Homo sapiens: one gene and its partners. The protein of the gene in region 1 purifies or fractionates together with the protein of each later gene. This does not show direct contact. Each region holds a gene or a part of one and is shown in the gene's direction. Other genes may lie near its edges. The genes, in order: ACER3, RBM6, YLPM1 and CENPF.

Region 1 (4,982 bases):
AAGGAGAATGTGTTTGGGGGTATAAAAATATCATAGTTTTCAAAAATCTAAATCTATATCAAAATAAGACTTTCCTTCCAGAAAAAAAGTGTTCAAAATATTTTAGTACACTATTGTGTGGTGTATGAATGAATATCTCGCTTTTATTTCCAGAACAGAAATTTTTTAATTGAATTTTCTGGAAGCAGTTAACCTCAAATCCAATTAAACTCTTAGTAGAAGTAATTTTATTTTCTACCATTCATCTTTTTAATACTTTAGTTTTCAGTTATAAAGACAATATAGCAACATTGTAGAAAATATGGAAAAAGGGGGAAATCCATTATTTAACCTGCTTAAATGTTTATTCTTAATTTCTTGGTTAGGGAACCCTCACCAACTATAGTTTTACCAAGTCATGATTGATGAAAACATAGTTTTATAATTGTGGTCGTTATCAATTTATTACTTCTTAGCTCTGAGTTCAACATTCATTGCATGGTTGGTGAAAATAGACCTGAGCCCTTTGAATATTTTCCTTTGACAACTGGCTGGATGTTAAATTTTGTCAATAGAGGGCGCCAGAGAGACATTGCAAGAGGAAGAGATTTTCCTTCCTGGTTCTGGTGTGCTGGCTTGGCAACTTCTCTGGCGCCAGCTCTTGCAGTCCAAGTGGCTTAATAGCTTCTGGCTCCTACAGTGCTGAGGCTTCCCCAGTGCCCACCTCTTAAAGCTTGGTCAGCTTCTGGTGCCAGGCTATTGCAGAACGTGGCTGTCAGCAGCACCTAGTGGTCAGTAGCATCCCCTGCCCACCTACCTCTCCGCTCTATGGGATTAGCTTTAGCTGGCACCCTAGAGGGCAGAGTTCTGACAAGTTCTGAACAGTAGATTTCAGCAAGCTCTATGGGTATAGCACCACAGCAACTTCTCGGCTATTCAGTGAACCATGGTCATGCCTTCTCCAGCAAGGTCTGCATCTCAGCCTTGGGGAAACCTCTTTTTTAATGCTCTATCTCAGCCTTAGGGGTAGTGGCTGCTCCTTACCTCTGATATTCCTTTATTCTGTAGAGTTTTCTTTACTTGTGACTAGCCTGTCTCTCCTTACTCTTATAAGTTAATAATTCTCTATTCAAATTACTCTGGTTTATCTTTTCTGATTGAACTCTTGACTTTTTTTTTTTTTTTTTTAACAGACAGAGTCTTGCTCTGTCACCCAGGCTGCAGTGCAGTGGTGTGATCATGGCTCACTGCAGCCTCAGCCTCCCAGGCTCAAGCGATCCTCCCACCTCAGCCTTCTGAGCAGCTAAGACCACGGGCAAGTGCCACTATGCCTGGCTAATTTTAAAAAATTTTTTGTAGAGATGGGTTCTCCTTATGTTGCCCAGGCTGGTGTCGAACTCCTGGGCTCAAGCAATCCTCCCCCCTTGGCTTTCCAAAGTGCTGGGATTATAGCCATGATCCACAATGCCTGGGCTGAAACCATTTTTTTACCCAAAGTTTTAAGTCCACGATCATTTTATGTGCATTATTTTGCTTAGTAAAATTAAATTAGCTAACATGTATAGCTATATAAGCTAAATTGCTTATTTACAAAGCAATTACATATCTATTATTCTTTAAATCAGCTTTTTAAAAGTAACCTTTTATTCTTTTTTCCTGACTTTACAGTCTTACCTGATTTATCAATTTTTTGCCTTTGTGGTTAATCCTTTTCATGTCCTACTGAAAAAAATCATTGCCTCTCCAAGGTGATAAAGATGTTCTCCCATATTTTCTTCTGAAGGTTTTATTGTGTTACCTTTTACATTTAGATCTATAGTACCTCTGGAATTTATTTTTAATTAAAACAAATTTTTAATTGTTTATCGAATTGGGCAGCCCTTGAACCAGAATGGGTTCAGAGAAGCTCCCATCTGGAATTTATTTTTGTGTAAGGAGTGTGAACCTGGGATCCAGATTAATTTTTTTCCTATATAAATATGCAGTTGATCCAGTATCTGTATTGAAAAGACCATCCTTTCCTTAATACACTGCAGGCTTATGTTTGTCATAAATCAGGTGCTCGTAAATGTTAGTATGTTCTTATAATCTTACCTGTTCTATTTAACCTTGTTAGTCGGCCTTGATATCTAGTAGTGTAAATACTCCAGGTTTGTTGTTACTCAAGATTGTCTTGGCTCTTCTTAGCCTTTTGTATTTCATATAAAGTTAAGAGTCAGCTTTTTAATTTGTACCCAAAACCATTTGGGATTTTTATTAGTATTATGTCTTATATGTCTTTGTCAGATTTATTCCTAGATATGTGATGTGTTTTGATGCTATTGCAAATTATATCTGTAACACCAAAACTGCAGTTACGTGTTCAGATTGTCAATCTGACCCAGGAATCCTTCAGATATTTGAAGATAGCAGTCATTCCATTCCTTATATGTTGTGTTTTATTTATTTAGTATATTATGCCTTTATATGAGTCTCTACTCTGAATGCTTTAGTATTTCTGTTTTGTTTAGGGTGCCACAAATAGATAAACATCCCAATGAGAAGCTGAATTAAAGCAGAGAAAAGTAGGAGGACCACTATCTAGCTCTTTCCATTTTTACCTCTGAATACTAGTATATTGAGATTTTCCTCCCAGAATAGCCTACTGTCATCTTTCTGTCTTTGGAACTTTCTGTCAGGGTTGTCCTTACTCTCTCTAACAAGCCTATATTTGTGGTTTGCAATTCTTCATTCTAATTTGTAAAACTTGTGCATTGTCCTTAAATGAGTTTCATATAGTTTGTAAGACCCTCCTGCACTCCCTGCCTCCAGGTAATTTGAAATGTATTACTGACTTCCATACTATTGACATTTCAGCTAAATTTAATACTACCTGTACGTTTGGGCATGTTTCCATTGCTTTATCTTAGTCATCAGTAAAGATTTTCATTAGTTTGAATCTTAGGGCACTCCTGAATGGTAAAATATTCAACATCTCCTACAGGTTTACTTAAAACTATTGATAACTGCTGTTTGGATATATAACTCTCAATCTGTCTGGCTCCCCACCTTACATTTTCATACTCTACCTAGGCAAATTACTTTATTCTTTGTACAGTTTGGAAGTCATTTAATATATTCTGAATAAAATACTCTGATATAATTTTTAAAACATTATAATTAATAAGCACCCTCTGTGTGAACATTGTGCTAGCACATCTAGTGAGAGGAACATTAGCTATAAGGACAGATAGACCTGGAATAAAATCTTGCCACCACCATTTGCTTATTGTGAGAACTTGGAATTGTATACTGTAAATTGTATAATTTCTTAACCCGCTTTTACTGTTTATTTTTAATAGGGACAACAATACTTCACAAGATTGGTTGTGAGAAGCAAGTAAGATAGCACATGTAAAATATAAAGTTCAGTACCTGGTACTTAATAGGCTCAGCATATTTTTGTTCCTTTCTCTCCTTTCAGGGTCTAGCTCAAATCTTAATACATCTATGAAACTATTCCCAACGATCTTACTCCCTCTCCTAAATGGTTTCTGTATTAATTTTTATTTTATCAAAGCAATATATAAAAAAAATTTAAAAATCTAGATAATGCTAAACAACTTTAACAAAACCAGAAGGCAATGTTCTTTCCCAACCCTTCTTTGCTTCCCACTGTCTAATTCTACTCCCCAGAAGCAAAATTAAAAAAAAAAACAAACCCAGCTTGATTGAGGTATAATTGAGATACAAAACAGACTGCACCTATTTAAAGTGTACAAATTAAAATTTGACATTGGCTTATACCTGTGAAACCATCAAAAACAAGATAGTAACATATCCTTCACCTCCAAGTTTTATTTTATTCCTTTGTAAGCCCTCCTTCTGCATTGAACTTCCACCATTTCTCCCCCAGCAACCACTGATCTTCTTTCTGTCACTGTAGATTAGTTTGCATTTTCTAGCCTTTTATATGATCTGTTTTAGTCCTTGTCTGCTAATTCTAACATCTGTTCTGGGTTGGTTCCAGTTGATTATTTTCCTCATGGATCATGTTTCTTGCTTTTTTTGTATGCCTGGTAATCTTTGATTGAATACCTGACATCGTGCTTTTTTTAACTTTGTTAGGTGCTGAATAACTTTTGTATTAGTATAAATAGTCTTGAATTTTGTTCTGGATTTCAGTGAAGCTACTTGGAAACAGTTTGATCCTTTTGGATTTTGCTTTTGTGATTTGTTAGGTGTGTCTGGAACAGGGTTCAGTCTAGTACTAGCTATTCCCTATTACTGAGGCCAGGCCTTCTTGATTCCTTTATCCAATGCCCAGTGTGATACAAATTTTACCATTTCAGCTTTTGGGAGTAGGCACTGTTTCTGGCTATGTGTGTACTGGCTATGTGTGAACACCTGGTACTGTTCCCTCTAATATTTTCACCATGATTCTTTCCTGGCTTCGACTAGTTTGCTCCTACACATCTGCTAATCAGTCTTCTGCTGAATAGTTAGGGGGCCCTTTATAGATTTCCTGAGTTCTTTCTCTCTAAAGTTGTCTCTCATATACTGTCTCCTGTGAAATCTAGTCACCTTGGTCTTCCTGAACTCCCCGCTTTGTTTCCTCATCAGGGAGCCTGCCAAGGTCCCGCTGGGTACTCCCTCCTTATGCTGTGGCTTGAGTACTCCAGGCAGTAAGGTAGGGGCAATCATAGGGGCCTCCATTTGTTTCTTGGTTTCTCGGGAATCATTGCCTGATGTCTATTGTCTTGAAAATAGTTGTTTCATATATTTTGTCTCCTCTCCCCTTCCCTCTGCTCCCCTCTTCTTCTTATTTCAGGTAAGAGGATAAATCTGGTTCTTGTTTCTTCATCTTGTGTGGAAACAGAAGTCTGACAATAACTGTGTTAACATTTATTTTATTTATTTATGTATTTATTTATTTATTTTTGTAGAGATGAGTCTCACTGTGTTGCCCAGGCTGCTCTAGAACTCCTGGGCTCAAGCGATCCTCCCACCTTGGTCTCCCAAAG
Region 2 (4,982 bases), on another chromosome or scaffold:
ACAGGCGCGTGCCACTATGCCTGGCTAATTTCATTATTTTAATATTAAAAAATACCCAAATATTTTATTTCTTTTTGTCTCTTAGCGAAGGAATACATATTTGGCTAGTAAGGAAAGCTAGCAAAATTTACATAAATGTTTATAAAAGTTGTATTGAGTTCACTAATTTATGTCTAGAATTCAGAGCTGTGCCTTGTCTGTGGCATGTTGACGCAGTTTGCTAAGCCACCTCTCAATTTTAGGGGTTACTTGGTACCAAGAAGAGTGGAGAAAGTGGTAGCATTTAGTTGTAAATAGATTGTATTTTAAATTTGTAGGGAATTAATTTTTTTATAGCTAGTATCATACACACTGTATTTTAACTAGTATTTAAACATTTTTCGTATTGTGTTTACAATTAATGAGATGCTATATGAATGTGACTTTTTTGGTTTTACTTGGTACATAGCAAATAAATCTGACCTTTAAATGTATGCATTCATAAGTATTGTTGCTCCAGTTGAAACTTCTATTAACTAGTACATTTTCCTTTTTTTACCTTTTTTCAAAATGGAGTCTCACTCTGTTGCCCATGCTGGAGTGCAGGGGTATGATCTCAGCTCACTGCAGCCTTTGCCTCCTAGGTTCAAGTGATTCTCCTCCCTTAGCCTCCTGAGTAGCTGGGACTACAGGTGTATGCCACCATGCCTGGCTAATTATTGTATTTTTTTTTTTAGTAGAGATGGCGTTTCACCATGTTGGCCAGGCTGATCTCAAACTCCTGACCTCAAGTGATCCACCTACCTCAGCCTCCCAAAGTGCTGGGACTATAAGTGTGAGCCACCGCACCTGCCATTTGGATTGGCAATCTGCAAGATTTTATTACTTAAATGCAACAGATGTTCTCATTCATTGTTCTGAAGCTTGGAGTTCCAATGAAAAATTTAGGTGGAGAACTGAGTTTAGAAAATCCATATAATGTTTAGTAAAACTAGTATTTCATAAATGCTGAATGACAGAGATTGGTCTTTAAATTAAAACAACAGTGTGATGTTGGGTATTTTTTTTCTTTCAAAATACTAAGGATTAGATCAGTGGTCAGCAAACTACAGCTGATAGCCTGTTTTTGTAAATAAAGTTTTACTGGAAAACAGCCACTCTTACTCATTTGCAGATTGTGTATGGCTGCTTTCATGCTATGATGGCAGAGTTGAATAGTTGTAACAGAGATTGTATAACCCACAAAATCCGATATGTTTACGAACTGGCTCTTCATGGAAAAAGTTTCCTGACCTCTCATCTAGATCAATGGGGTTGTACGTTACCATTTAAAAATATTTAGGTTGTAATCTATCCTCTTATTACTTGTATTTATGGGTAACTATTTTGTAAGTAAGGCTGTTTCGTATAGAATTAACGTGGTTTAGGTAAGCATTCAGAAATGTTAGGTTAATTTAGCTTTATTGTCTAACTTTTTTCAAATTTAGAACATTTGTCTTTGACTCGTTTAAACTTATTTAAAATTATATTTTCCCACCTTAATTTTAGTTTAAATGTAAGTCATTATATGCTGTTTTTTAACATCTTTGACTAGGAGGGAGACAGTTTTTGGGAACTAATTTGAACCAAAACAGATATAGGAAAATGATTTTGTTACATTTCCTTTGAACTTTTCTTTTAAAATTTGTTTTTATTTGGTTGAAAATAATTTTCATAACTACTGATATTTTATATTAGTAGAATGGTTTCTTGATTCGTCTGTATAAAATACAAATCTAAGAACCCTGCTACAGTAAGTTACTCTAAATCTATTTGATCTTAATTTAGAAGAGTAAGATAATCTTTAGGCCATGTTGGATGTGTTCTGGTCAGAAAACATGTAGATTTCATACCTCAGTCCTCATCCCATGAGTGTCTGATGAAGCTTAAATCTTCCTGCAAGAAAGACTTGAATGATTTTAAACATGAGAGACACTGTATTTAGTGGTAACATCTTAATTTTAGTGTTAAATTGTATTGCCTAAGAAGAACATCTAGGGCGGGCGTGGCGGCTCACGCCTGTAATCCCAGCACTTTGGGAGGCCGAGGCGGGTGGATCACGAGGTCAGGAGATCAAGACCATCCTGGCTAACACGGTGAAACCCCGCCTCTACAAAAAATACAAAAAAATTAGCTGGGCGTGGTAGCGGGCGCCTGTAGTCCCAGCCCCTTGGGAAGCTGAGGCAGGAGAATGGCGTGAACCCGGGAGGCGGAGCTTGCAGTGAGCCAATATCGCGCCACTGCACTCCAGCCTGGGCGACAGAGCGAGACTCCGTCTCAAAAAAAAAAAAAAGAAGAACATCTAAACTTGCTCCTCTTATGATGAACCACATAGACATAACTAGTGTTAATGGGGGTCAGTGGAAGTCATCATGTTCTGAAAATCCATTAAATGTACATCATTCTAGTGTTTAGGTTAATGCTGTTAAATTCCTGTTACTTTAAGAAAGGGTTGGCCGGGCATGGTGGCTCACGCCTGTAACCCTAACCTTGGGGAGACAGAGATGGGTGGCTCACCTGAGGTCAAGAGTTCAAGACCAGCCTGGGCAGCATGGTAAAACCCCATCTCTGCTAAAAATAAAAAAATTAGCTGGGCATGGTGGCGCATGCCTGTAATCCCAGCTACTCTGGAGGCTGAGGCATGAGAATTGCTTGAACCCAGGAGGCAGAGGCTGCAGTGAACCGAGATCATGCCATTGCACTCCAGCCTGGGCAACAGAGCGAGACTCCGTCTCAAAAAAAAAGAAAAAGAGAAAGAAAAGGTTTGGCATTGCAACTATTTCTCTTGAACTGAGTGACCCAGAATCAGTTGTCCTTTGAATTTTAGTATAGTAGCATAGTCTGAGCTCAGAAGGGCCTTATGATAGACCCTGTATGTTCTGGGAGGCAAGAATTGAGTTGGTATTAATATCTTAATGCTTTTGTTTTACTGCTGAATAACAGATGACCCTTCAGGTCTTTTCATGTTTTCCTTTTTCATGTCTCCCTGCCTAGGATCCTAGGTGCCTAATTGCCTACTTAAACTAGTTTAGGGAATCTTGGACTGAAGCCAAAACATGTAAAATGCCCTGAAGGTTAGGCAAAGGGAAGAAGTTGGGTAGTATGAAAGATTAGGTCACATCTTGTTTATCTCTTGAGTTCTATAAATTGAGAATGTAAATTTAATACTATGTCTATTTTTAAAATGTATTTTATTGCCATGAAAAAGTAGCATGAGACATTGGAATATGGAATATCAGCTTCTTCATTTGGGTCATGGGGATCATGCTTGAAGACCTAATGCTCTCTCTAGGTCTATCTCAGCATTGAGCCCCTGGATGCTGTTGCGTGGCTTAGATGACTTATACATGCTTTGTGGCATGATTCATACTACCTTCTACCTTCTGTGATACCCTTGGGTAGTTATAATAGGACCCAGGTTAGAGTGCTTCTTGGTGGAGCCACTGTAGAACTGGGATTTAGATGCAGCCAGGGCTGATGCTCAGCTGGTGAACACTGGTGTGCTTGTTCCTACTGGTGATTTACAACCAGTGTTTCTTCTTTTTGGGCCTGCATCCATTTTGATTGGGTGGTGTCCATGCTGTATCTGTAATAAAATATTTTTGAATGTTACCGCTGGATGCAGCGTGAGAAAGATACCTCCTGAAACTTACTGTAAGAAATTTACAGTGCATTGATTTTTCTGATATATAGGAATCGTCATGTTGACCTTGGAATTCTTAAGTTCCCTGGCTGTAGGAAATGGAAATTTTTGTAGTATGTCACCATTGTTAGCTTATTTGGTATTGCGGATTTTCCCTGTTGCAGGACTGGGTGAAAGCTTTTTCTGCAGCAGTCATGTTGAAAACCTTGTGTTGACTTTCCTCGTGTTCTGAAATGGGAGCATAAAAGTTTACTCCGCCACTTCGTCTTAAAATAGCAAAACTTTGCTGTTTTCTGCAGATCTAGGACCTTGTTACAGAACTCTGCCAAAAAAAAAATGTTTACAGAAGAATGTGCTGTGATTAGAGAAGAATATGCTGGTGTGTAGATTTCAAACTCTCTGGACAATATGAATAACACTGTCTTTGTTTCTACAGTGGGAGCCAAGAAGAAAGGTTTGCTCCCGGGTGGAACAGGGATTATCCTCCTCCTCCCCTTAAGAGTCATGCTCAAGAGAGACACTCTGGCAACTTTCCTGGCAGAGATTCACTTCCCTTTGATTTCCAGGGGCATTCGGGGCCTCCTTTTGCAAATGTAGAGGAGCATTCTTTCAGCTATGGAGCTAGAGACGGACCGCATGGTGACTATCGAGGAGGGGAGGGACCTGGACATGATTTCAGGGGGGGAGATTTTTCGTCTTCTGATTTCCAGAGCAGAGATTCATCACAGTTGGACTTCAGGGGTAGGGACATACATTCTGGGGATTTTCGGGATAGAGAAGGACCACCTATGGACTATAGGGGTGGAGATGGTACTTCTATGGATTATAGAGGTAGGGAGGCACCTCATATGAACTACAGAGACAGGGATGCTCACGCTGTTGACTTCAGAGGTAGGGATGCTCCTCCATCTGACTTCAGGGGCCGGGGCACTTATGATTTAGATTTTAGAGGCCGGGATGGATCCCATGCAGATTTTAGGGGAAGGGATTTATCAGATTTGGATTTTAGGGCCAGAGAACAGTCCCGTTCTGATTTTAGGAATAGAGATGTATCTGATTTGGACTTTAGAGACAAAGACGGAACACAAGTAGACTTTAGAGGCCGAGGTTCAGGTACTACTGATCTAGACTTTAGGGACAGGGATACGCCACATTCAGATTTCAGAGGTAGACACCGATCTAGGACTGATCAGGATTTTAGGGGCAGAGAGATGGGATCTTGTATGGAATTTAAAGATAGGGAGATGCCCCCTGTGGATCCAAATATTTTGGATTACATTCAGCCCTCTACACAAGATAGAGAACATTCTGGTATGAATGT
Region 3 (4,982 bases), on another chromosome or scaffold:
TGTTGCCCAGGCTGGGGTGCAATGGCACGATCTCGGCTCACTGCAACCTCTGCCTCCCGGGTTCAAACAATTCTCCTGCCTCAGCCTGCCTCAGCTACTCCCAGGAGTAGCTGGGATTACAGGCGCCTGCCACCACGCTTGGCTAATTTTTGTATTTTTAGTAGAGACGAGGTTTCACCATGTTGGCTAGGCTGGTCTCGAACTCCTGACCCCAGGTGATCTGCCTGTCTCAGCCTCCCAAAGTGCTGGGGTTACAGGTGTGAGTCAGAGTGCCCGGCCATTTTTTTTTGTATTTTTAGTACAGAAGAGGTTTCACCATCTTGGCCAGGCTGGTCTTGAACTCCTGACCTCGTGATCCACCTGCTACGGCCTCCCAAAGTGCTGGGATTACAGGCGTAAGCTGCCACGCCGGGCCTGTAAAGTGATATTTAAATGAACTCTAAAGAATAAGTAGGAGGACTGGGTGCTCACACCTGTAATCCCAGTTCTTTGGGCTCATTAGAGGCCGGGAGTTCAAGGCCAGCCTGGGCAACAAAGTGAGACACCCCCCCCCCCGCCCCCCGCCCACAAAAAGTTTAAAAAACTAGCCAGGTGGCCGGGCGCAGTGGCTCACGCCTGTAATCCCAGCACTTTGGGAGGCCTAGGCGGGCAGATCACGAGGTCAGAAGATCAAGACCATCCTGGCTAACATGGTGAAACCCCATCTCTACTAAAAATACAAAAAATTAGCCGGGCGTGGTGGTGGGCGCCTGTAGTCCCAACTTCTCAGGAAGCTGAGGCAGGAGAATGGTGTGAACCCGGGAGGCGGAGCTTGCAGTGAGCCGAGATCGCGCCACTGCACTCCAGCCTGGGCGACAGAGTGAGACTCCGACTCAAAAAAAAAAAAAACCTAGCCAGGCATGGTGTTGCATGCCTGTAGTGCCGGCTACTTGCGGGTGGCTGAGGTGGGAGGATTGTTTAAGCCCAGGAGTTCTCGTGCCACTGCACTCTAGCCTGGGCAACAGAGTGAGACCTAAAAAAAAAAAAAATGAGTAGGCCAGGTGCAGTGGCTGATGCCTGTAATCTCAGCACTTTGGGAGGCCAAGGCAGGCGGATCACTTGAAGTCAGGAGTTCAAGACCAGCCTGGCCAACATGGTGAAATTCTGTCTCTACTACAAATACAAAAAATTAGCTGGGTGTGGTGGTGCACGCTTTTAATCTCAGCTACTTGGGAGGCTGAGGTGGGAGGATCACTTGAACCCAGGAGGCAGAGGTTGCAGTGAGCCAAGATTGCCCCACTGCTCTCTAGCCTGGGCGACAGAGTGGGACTCCATCTCAGTTAAAAAAAAAGAAAAAGAGTAGAAATTAACCAGAAGTTAGAATTCAAAGAATTAAGTTCAATAAGGCTCACTGAAAGCTCAGGGTGAGGATGGTAGGTATGAACTAGATCAGGGAAGGCCTGTAAGGACTTCATTCTAAGGGCAGTTGGAAGCCATTGAAGGATTTTACATAGGTGAATGTGACAGATTGGCATTTTTGAAAGCTCACTCTGCTTGCAGTGTGGAGAGCAGAATTAAAAGGAGCAAGAGTGATTTAGAGAGAATAGTTATTGAAGTAATCCAGGCAAGAGATAATAGTGGTTTAGACTTTGATGGTATTAGTTGAGATGGAGAGAAGTGGGAAGAGTGGAGAAATATTTAGCTGCTAGAATTCACTTTGAGGTTGAGTAGTTATGGAGAGGGAGGCATCAAGAATGATTCTTAGGTTTCTGGGCTGGGCCGTAGGGTGGATGGTGGTCAAATTTACTAAAACAGAAAAACCTAAAGGAGGAGGAGGAAGAACATTTCTGGGGGTGAGGAGAAAATCATGAGTTAGGTTTCAGACATACTGAGTTTGGGGTTCTTGAGACATAGATTCCAAATGGAGATGTCCACTTGGAAGTTAGATATAGCTCTGGAGTCTAGATGTAAGATCTGGGAGACATAGATTTATAAGTCATCAGCATAAAAATGGTATTTGAAGACACAGAAATAGATGAAGCCTCTCAAGGAATGTGTGTAGAGTAAGAACTGAGGTTAAAGGACATTAAGCCTAGCTCCACAAATAGCAGTATCTAAGGGAACCAATGAAAGAATGGCCAAATAGGTATTCATATTAGGTTGGTGCAAAAGTAATTGCAGTTTTTGCTATTACTTTTAATGGCAAAACCACAGTTACTTTGGCACCAGTGTGATAGGTGGAAAATCAAGATAGTGGATAGTGCGTTGCCATGAACGTCAAGGAACAGACTCTAGGAGGAGGGAGTCGTCAGCTGTGTGAAGTACTGCTGAGACGTCAAGCAAGATAAAGACTGCGAGTTATCTTTTGCACCTACTGACATGTAGATTATTGTTGACCTTGGCAGGAGCAGTTTCATAGTGACTGAAGCCATATTGCATTGATTTGAGGAGTGATGGAAGGTGAGGAAATGGGGATGGTGAGTACAGACAACTCTTTCAAGAAGTTTGACTGAAGGAGAGAGAGAATGAGGGAAGGAGCTGGAGGAATAGATGAAGTAAATGAGCATTTAAAATAAAAATAGGTGGGGACTAAGCTTATCTGGTGACCCTGATTCTTACAGTAGAATGTGAATCTCAAAAATATTTAAGCCTATTTTAAATAAATTTCTAAAATGGAAACCCAATTCATTATTTTACCAGGTGTCCTCCCTGCCCCCTGCTTTAGAATATAAGACATAGAACATTGTCTTATAGGCATTTATGATAACCTGGATAGGGAAGGTAATCTTCTAAAATTAATCTTTAAAACATTACACACAAACACTCACCTCCTTTATAGTTCTCCACTTGGAAAATCATTTAGTATCTAGTTCATTACTAGCAGCAGTGGTCAGTAAGTGCTTCCTGAGTAAATTAAAATCAACATCTTTCTTTTTTTTTTTTTTTTCTCAGAGAGATGGGATCTTGCCATGTTGCCCAGGCTGGTCTGAATTCCTGGGCTCAAGCGATATTCGTGCCTCGGCAGCATCTTTCTTAATAACAGTATTTGTGACAAATAGTTCTATATTCTTAATTTTTTTTTTTTTTTTGAGATGGAGTCTCGCTCTCACCCAGGCTGAAGTGCAGTGGCGCGAGGATCTGGGCTCACTGCAACCTCCGCCTCCCAGGTTCAAGCGATTCTCCTGCCTCAGCCTCCCGAGTAGCTGGGATTACAGGCATGTGCCACCACACCCAGCTAAGTTTTGTATTTTTAGTAGAGACAGGGTTTCACCATGTTGGTCAGGCTGGTCTCGAACTCCTCACCTTGTGATCCGCCCGCCTTGGCCTCCCAAAGTGCTGGGATTACAGATGTGAGCCACCGCACCCAGCCAATAGTTCTACATTCTTTATGTTTGAAATCCCTTCATTCAATCTCGTTTTAAATGTGACCTATATTATGATTTCCCTCTACCTATAAAACAACATCCCATATGAAATGGAGTTATCTGATATGATGGGACATTCAGAAGAGCTGGCATCATTAGCAAGTTCAGGCATTTTTTTTCTTTCTAAAATAGGGATGATCACACTTCTCTTAGGGTCAGTAAGGACATTTGTGAGTGATATCATTATTATTTATTTGCAGAGCTTCAAAAATGTGCTGAAGCCTACCATAGGATTGAATTAGATCTGGTTACTACTTATAGGGTTCATATTAAATAGAAATTGACCTACAAGGCGGCCGGGCACGGTGGCTCACGCCTGTAATCCCAGCACTTTGGGAGGCTGAGGTGGGCGGATCACAAGGTCAGGAGATCGAGACCATCCTGGCTAACATGGTGAAACCCCGTCTCTACTAAAAAATATAAAAAATTAGCCGGGCGTGGTGGCGGGCGCCTGTAGTCCCAACTACTCAGGAGGCTGAGGCAGGAGAATGGCGTGAACTCGGGAGGCGGAGCTTGCAGTGAGCCGAGATCGCGCCACTGCGCTCCAGCCTGGGCGACAGAGCGAGACTCCATCTCAAGAAAAAAAAAAGAGAAATTGACCTACAAGGCATACTGTCAGTGAATCAACAAGTACTTCAGCCCTTAACAAGTTCTTAACCCTGGTCTGGATCTAAGACAAAGCATGAGAATAGGTGATGAAGAAGCTGATAAAGAATCTGGACCTGTACAGTTTTCATTCTGTACAGTCTTCATATCTGTAGCATTGGCTTAGTTTGTGAAAGATAGTTTGCATCTTTGTATCTTTTAATAATGCTTTCAAAGCAACTTTAAAAAAGGAAACTTTTAACTTCTACTTGAAAGAGAATGTACTAATTTTTTTAAAACTGAAGGATAAGTCTGTTGATGTTTTCAGTATTAAAATAATGGAAGGAAGTGTTTTAATGCTACATTATTATTATTATTGGCTTTGGCTTTCATGGTCAGTGTGCTGTTTTCTTTCTTTTTTTTTTTTTTTTTTTTTTTTTTTGAGACAGAGTCTTTCTCTGTTGCCCAGGCTGGAGTGCAATGGCACGATCTCGGCTCACTGCAACCTCCGCCTCCCAGGTTCAGGGGATTCTCCTGCCTCACCCTCCGGAGTAGCTGAGATTATAGGTGTGTGCCACCACACCCTACTAATTTTTGTATTTTTAGTAGAGGCGAGGTTTCACCGTGTTGGCCAGGCTGGTCTCGAACTCCTGACCTCAGGTGACCTGCCCGCCTAGACCTCCCAAAGTACTGGGATTACAGGCATGAGCCACTGTGCCTGGCCAAGTGTGCTGTTTTCTTACGTTGAATAGTAAAAGTACAGATACTCTTTGACTTACAGTGGGGTTACATCTCAATAAACCCATTGTAAGTTGAGGATAATGTAAGTTGAACATTTAATACACCTAGCCTACTGAATACCATAGTTTAGCCTAGCTATTAAATGTGCTCAGAAAGTTTACATTAGGCAAAGTCATCTGGCCACACAGTACACAGTAGAGTATTGGTTTTTTTCTTGTTTTGTTTTGTTTTCTTTGAGATGGAGTCAGTGAG
Region 4 (4,982 bases), on another chromosome or scaffold:
TAGCAAGGGAAAAATATGAAATTTAAATACATTACAAATTGTAATTGAGCCGAAGGGTTTGTCTTCAAGATAAATGCCTAACCCCAGTGTCTTGCCCATAGGGGCCACTTACTGAACGTATAAGTATGTTGAACATTTGAATGAAGAGAGAAAGATGTAGTGGGAAATTCACCACTTTAAGAGATGTGTTTAGCAGAGGCCACGCATCAGTTTCTAAAAAGTAATAACTAAATCTATTCTATTTTGATTCTTTTTGAAAAATAAAATGCATGCTTGTTATGTATTATAATTACAGGCTATTCAAGGCCGAAATGAGAGCTGTGACATATCAAAAGAACATACTTCAGAAACTACAGAAAGAACACCAAAGCATGATGTTCATCAGATTTGTGATAAAGATGCTCAGCAGGACCTCAATCTAGACATTGAGAAAATAACTGAGACTGGTGCAGTGAAACCCACAGGAGAGTGCTCTGGGGAACAGTCCCCAGATACCAATTATGAGCCTCCAGGGGAAGATAAAACCCAGGGCTCTTCAGAATGCATTTCTGAATTGTCATTTTCTGGTCCTAATGCTTTGGTACCTATGGATTTCCTGGGGAATCAGGAAGATATCCATAATCTTCAACTGCGGGTAAAAGAGACATCAAATGAGAATTTGAGATTACTTCATGTGATAGAGGACCGTGACAGAAAAGTTGAAAGTTTGCTAAATGAAATGAAAGAATTAGACTCAAAACTCCATTTACAGGAGGTACAACTAATGACCAAAATTGAAGCATGCATAGAATTGGAAAAAATAGTTGGGGAACTTAAGAAAGAAAACTCAGATTTAAGTGAAAAATTGGAATATTTTTCTTGTGATCACCAGGAGTTACTCCAGAGAGTAGAAACTTCTGAAGGCCTCAATTCTGATTTAGAAATGCATGCAGATAAATCATCACGTGAAGATATTGGAGATAATGTGGCCAAGGTGAATGACAGCTGGAAGGAGAGATTTCTTGATGTGGAAAATGAGCTGAGTAGGATCAGATCGGAGAAAGCTAGCATTGAGCATGAAGCCCTCTACCTGGAGGCTGACTTAGAGGTAGTTCAAACAGAGAAGCTATGTTTAGAAAAAGACAATGAAAATAAGCAGAAGGTTATTGTCTGCCTTGAAGAAGAACTCTCAGTGGTCACAAGTGAGAGAAACCAGCTTCGTGGAGAATTAGATACTATGTCAAAAAAAACCACGGCACTGGATCAGTTGTCTGAAAAAATGAAGGAGAAAACACAAGAGCTTGAGTCTCATCAAAGTGAGTGTCTCCATTGCATTCAGGTGGCAGAGGCAGAGGTGAAGGAAAAGACGGAACTCCTTCAGACTTTGTCCTCTGATGTGAGTGAGCTGTTAAAAGACAAAACTCATCTCCAGGAAAAGCTGCAGAGTTTGGAAAAGGACTCACAGGCACTGTCTTTGACAAAATGTGAGCTGGAAAACCAAATTGCACAACTGAATAAAGAGAAAGAATTGCTTGTCAAGGAATCTGAAAGCCTGCAGGCCAGACTGAGTGAATCAGATTATGAAAAGCTGAATGTCTCCAAGGCCTTGGAGGCCGCACTGGTGGAGAAAGGTGAGTTCGCATTGAGGCTGAGCTCAACACAGGAGGAAGTGCATCAGCTGAGAAGAGGCATCGAGAAACTGAGAGTTCGCATTGAGGCCGATGAAAAGAAGCAGCTGCACATCGCAGAGAAACTGAAAGAACGCGAGCGGGAGAATGATTCACTTAAGGATAAAGTTGAGAACCTTGAAAGGGAATTGCAGATGTCAGAAGAAAACCAGGAGCTAGTGATTCTTGATGCCGAGAATTCCAAAGCAGAAGTAGAGACTCTAAAAACACAAATAGAAGAGATGGCCAGAAGCCTGAAAGTTTTTGAATTAGACCTTGTCACGTTAAGGTCTGAAAAAGAAAATCTGACAAAACAAATACAAGAAAAACAAGGTCAGTTGTCAGAACTAGACAAGTTACTCTCTTCATTTAAAAGTCTGTTAGAAGAAAAGGAGCAAGCAGAGATACAGATCAAAGAAGAATCTAAAACTGCAGTGGAGATGCTTCAGAATCAGTTAAAGGAGCTAAATGAGGCAGTAGCAGCCTTGTGTGGTGACCAAGAAATTATGAAGGCCACAGAACAGAGTCTAGACCCACCAATAGAGGAAGAGCATCAGCTGAGAAATAGCATTGAAAAGCTGAGAGCCCGCCTAGAAGCTGATGAAAAGAAGCAGCTCTGTGTCTTACAACAACTGAAGGAAAGTGAGCATCATGCAGATTTACTTAAGGGTAGAGTGGAGAACCTTGAAAGAGAGCTAGAGATAGCCAGGACAAACCAAGAGCATGCAGCTCTTGAGGCAGAGAATTCCAAAGGAGAGGTAGAGACCCTAAAAGCAAAAATAGAAGGGATGACCCAAAGTCTGAGAGGTCTGGAATTAGATGTTGTTACTATAAGGTCAGAAAAAGAAAATCTGACAAATGAATTACAAAAAGAGCAAGAGCGAATATCTGAATTAGAAATAATAAATTCATCATTTGAAAATATTTTGCAAGAAAAAGAGCAAGAGAAAGTACAGATGAAAGAAAAATCAAGCACTGCCATGGAGATGCTTCAAACACAATTAAAAGAGCTCAATGAGAGAGTGGCAGCCCTGCATAATGACCAAGAAGCCTGTAAGGCCAAAGAGCAGAATCTTAGTAGTCAAGTAGAGTGTCTTGAACTTGAGAAGGCTCAGTTGCTACAAGGCCTTGATGAGGCCAAAAATAATTATATTGTTTTGCAATCTTCAGTGAATGGCCTCATTCAAGAAGTAGAAGATGGCAAGCAGAAACTGGAGAAGAAGGATGAAGAAATCAGTAGACTGAAAAATCAAATTCAAGACCAAGAGCAGCTTGTCTCTAAACTGTCCCAGGTGGAAGGAGAGCACCAACTTTGGAAGGAGCAAAACTTAGAACTGAGAAATCTGACAGTGGAATTGGAGCAGAAGATCCAAGTGCTACAATCCAAAAATGCCTCTTTGCAGGACACATTAGAAGTGCTGCAGAGTTCTTACAAGAATCTAGAGAATGAGCTTGAATTGACAAAAATGGACAAAATGTCCTTTGTTGAAAAAGTAAGTGGCTATATCTGTTTATGTTTAAATATGTAGTCATGAGGCAGGAAACCATATTTTCTTCTAGACACTGTGAATTGTATTTACTTCTAGACCGTGTCTGCTATATTGGACCAAACTTTGTAAAGGCTTTATGTTTACTGGGTCTTGAATTGCAGAAACACTGAGTTGGCTCTGGCAGTAGTCACTATTCTGGCTGATTCTTTGGGACATGTTCATGGATTGGACCAGGTTTTTAATGTGGCACCTACATAAGGGCAAAGCTTTGGTTTATGCACAGTTCCTTGTTCTAGTTATATTTCCTTTTCTTAGAGTACATCAGAATAGTGGCCTCCCCATATCCAGTTGAGACTCACTGCTATAGAGAGTATAACAGACATTATCTAGGATCGGAAAGGATCTGCCTGCCTTACTGTGTCTTTTTTGCCTTCAGGACAAAGCACTTTTAAAGATACTGATAGATTTGTAACCAACAGAGCACTCATGGCTTCTAGGGTGTGTTTTGGGGATTTCGTGCTTTCAGTCCCTCTTATACCTTCTCTTTGTGCAGTCTTCTATTGTATTAGTTGATGATTAAAGGGAAGATCTGCCATCAAGAGGCTCAATTATTAAAGAAAAATTAAGTTTTGGCCCAGTGAGCTTACTTAGTGATCTAGGAAAGTGATTTTGTCACACTTAATTCTTGCTGAACAAATATTAAAGAATAAAAGGACTATCCACAAAATTCATCTCCACCCTGTATTTTCTAAGAATTTTGGGGTTTTGGATACCTTGCAAGAGATGGCAGTCAGTATAGAGATGATGAGACAAACCATAGCAAGCTGTTTCACTTCAAGGGACAAATGCAAACAATAGCTTTTTAACTGTTTTTCAGTAATCATAAGCATGTTTATTGCAGATTAGTATGGCACTGGGGGATTAGTAGAGATCCAAGAAGTGATAAGATACTGCCTGATAATGATAATCTTTGATGTTTAAGTTTAATTCAAATTAATACCTTTGTGAAAGATTTTAAGACTTAGGGATATTATCTTTCCTTGTCATTCCTTCCCTTATTACTATTCTTCTATTAAATCTTTTCTGGGAAGAAAAGGTAAGCTTACTAGTAGGTTTTGAGAATGTTGAGTTGAGTGGATTAGTAAAGGCGGGATTAGCCAGCTTCCATTTTATGATTGAAGGCTAAAATAAATGGCATGAATATGTTGTATCAGAGTGGTCGATCTGATCAAAACAGACCACCAAAAAGCAGATTCTAATGAAAGATGAAATTTCAGGTAAACAAAATGACTGCAAAGGAAACTGAGCTGCAGAGGGAAATGCATGAGATGGCACAGAAAACAGCAGAGCTGCAAGAAGAACTCAGTGGAGAGAAAAATAGGCTAGCTGGAGAGTTGCAGTTACTGTTGGAAGAAATAAAGAGCAGCAAAGTAAGTTTCTTTGTGACAAGTGTTATTATGATCTGTTAATTCATTGTGCACACTCTCCTTATTGGTTCCTGTAAGACCTTCTGTTGTTTACCTAACTTATTTTTAGCTCTTGAAAAAAATAACCCTGTGCTTATGTCATAATCTGATTTATAGTAATCTCTACCATCCAGCACTATCAGGAGCCCACAAGGAGTCGTGAGAAGCCTCTGAACACATGAAAGTATCTGTCTCAGAGCCCAAATACATTTTCATGGAAGAGGACCCTTGGACCACATTAACGCACAACAGAAGTAGATCTCATGCCGCTTTCAACAAGTTTATCTGCCTCCCTAGCTTGCCACAGATTACAGGGTGGAATGTTGCTAGAAACACATTCATTGATCTGCTAAGAACTAACAAAGTAACAGAACTAAAGT

What was found.
Region 2: the proteins of ACER3 (region 1) and RBM6 purify together in Homo sapiens (affinity purification with mass spectrometry; one large-scale study listed by BioGRID and IntAct). This does not show direct contact.
Region 3: the proteins of ACER3 (region 1) and YLPM1 purify together in Homo sapiens (affinity purification with mass spectrometry; one large-scale study listed by BioGRID and IntAct). This does not show direct contact.
Region 4: the proteins of ACER3 (region 1) and CENPF purify together in Homo sapiens (affinity purification with mass spectrometry; one large-scale study listed by BioGRID and IntAct). This does not show direct contact.

The regions. Positions count from the first base shown.
Region 1 is NC_000011.10:76,919,486-76,924,467, forward strand, and holds part of ACER3 (alkaline ceramidase 3), read left to right. Parts: intron 1-621; exon of another isoform or gene 622-770; intron 771-4,982. UniProt on the Homo sapiens protein: Endoplasmic reticulum and Golgi ceramidase that catalyzes the hydrolysis of unsaturated long-chain C18:1-, C20:1- and C20:4-ceramides, dihydroceramides and phytoceramides into sphingoid bases like sphingosine and free fatty acids at alkaline pH.
Region 2 is NC_000003.12:49,963,373-49,968,354, forward strand, and holds part of RBM6 (RNA-binding protein 6), read left to right. Parts: intron 1-3,825; exon of another isoform or gene 3,826-4,097; coding exon 4,098-4,982. UniProt on the Homo sapiens protein: Specifically binds poly(G) RNA homopolymers in vitro.
Region 3 is NC_000014.9:74,769,308-74,774,289, forward strand, and holds part of YLPM1 (YLP motif-containing protein 1), read left to right. Parts: intron 1-2,384; exon of another isoform or gene 2,385-2,439; intron 2,440-4,982. UniProt on the Homo sapiens protein: Plays a role in the reduction of telomerase activity during differentiation of embryonic stem cells by binding to the core promoter of TERT and controlling its down-regulation.
Region 4 is NC_000001.11:214,644,262-214,649,243, forward strand, and holds part of CENPF (centromere protein F), read left to right. Parts: intron 1-295; coding exon 296-3,139; intron 3,140-4,413; coding exon 4,414-4,566; intron 4,567-4,982. UniProt on the Homo sapiens protein: Required for kinetochore function and chromosome segregation in mitosis. Required for kinetochore localization of dynein, LIS1, NDE1 and NDEL1.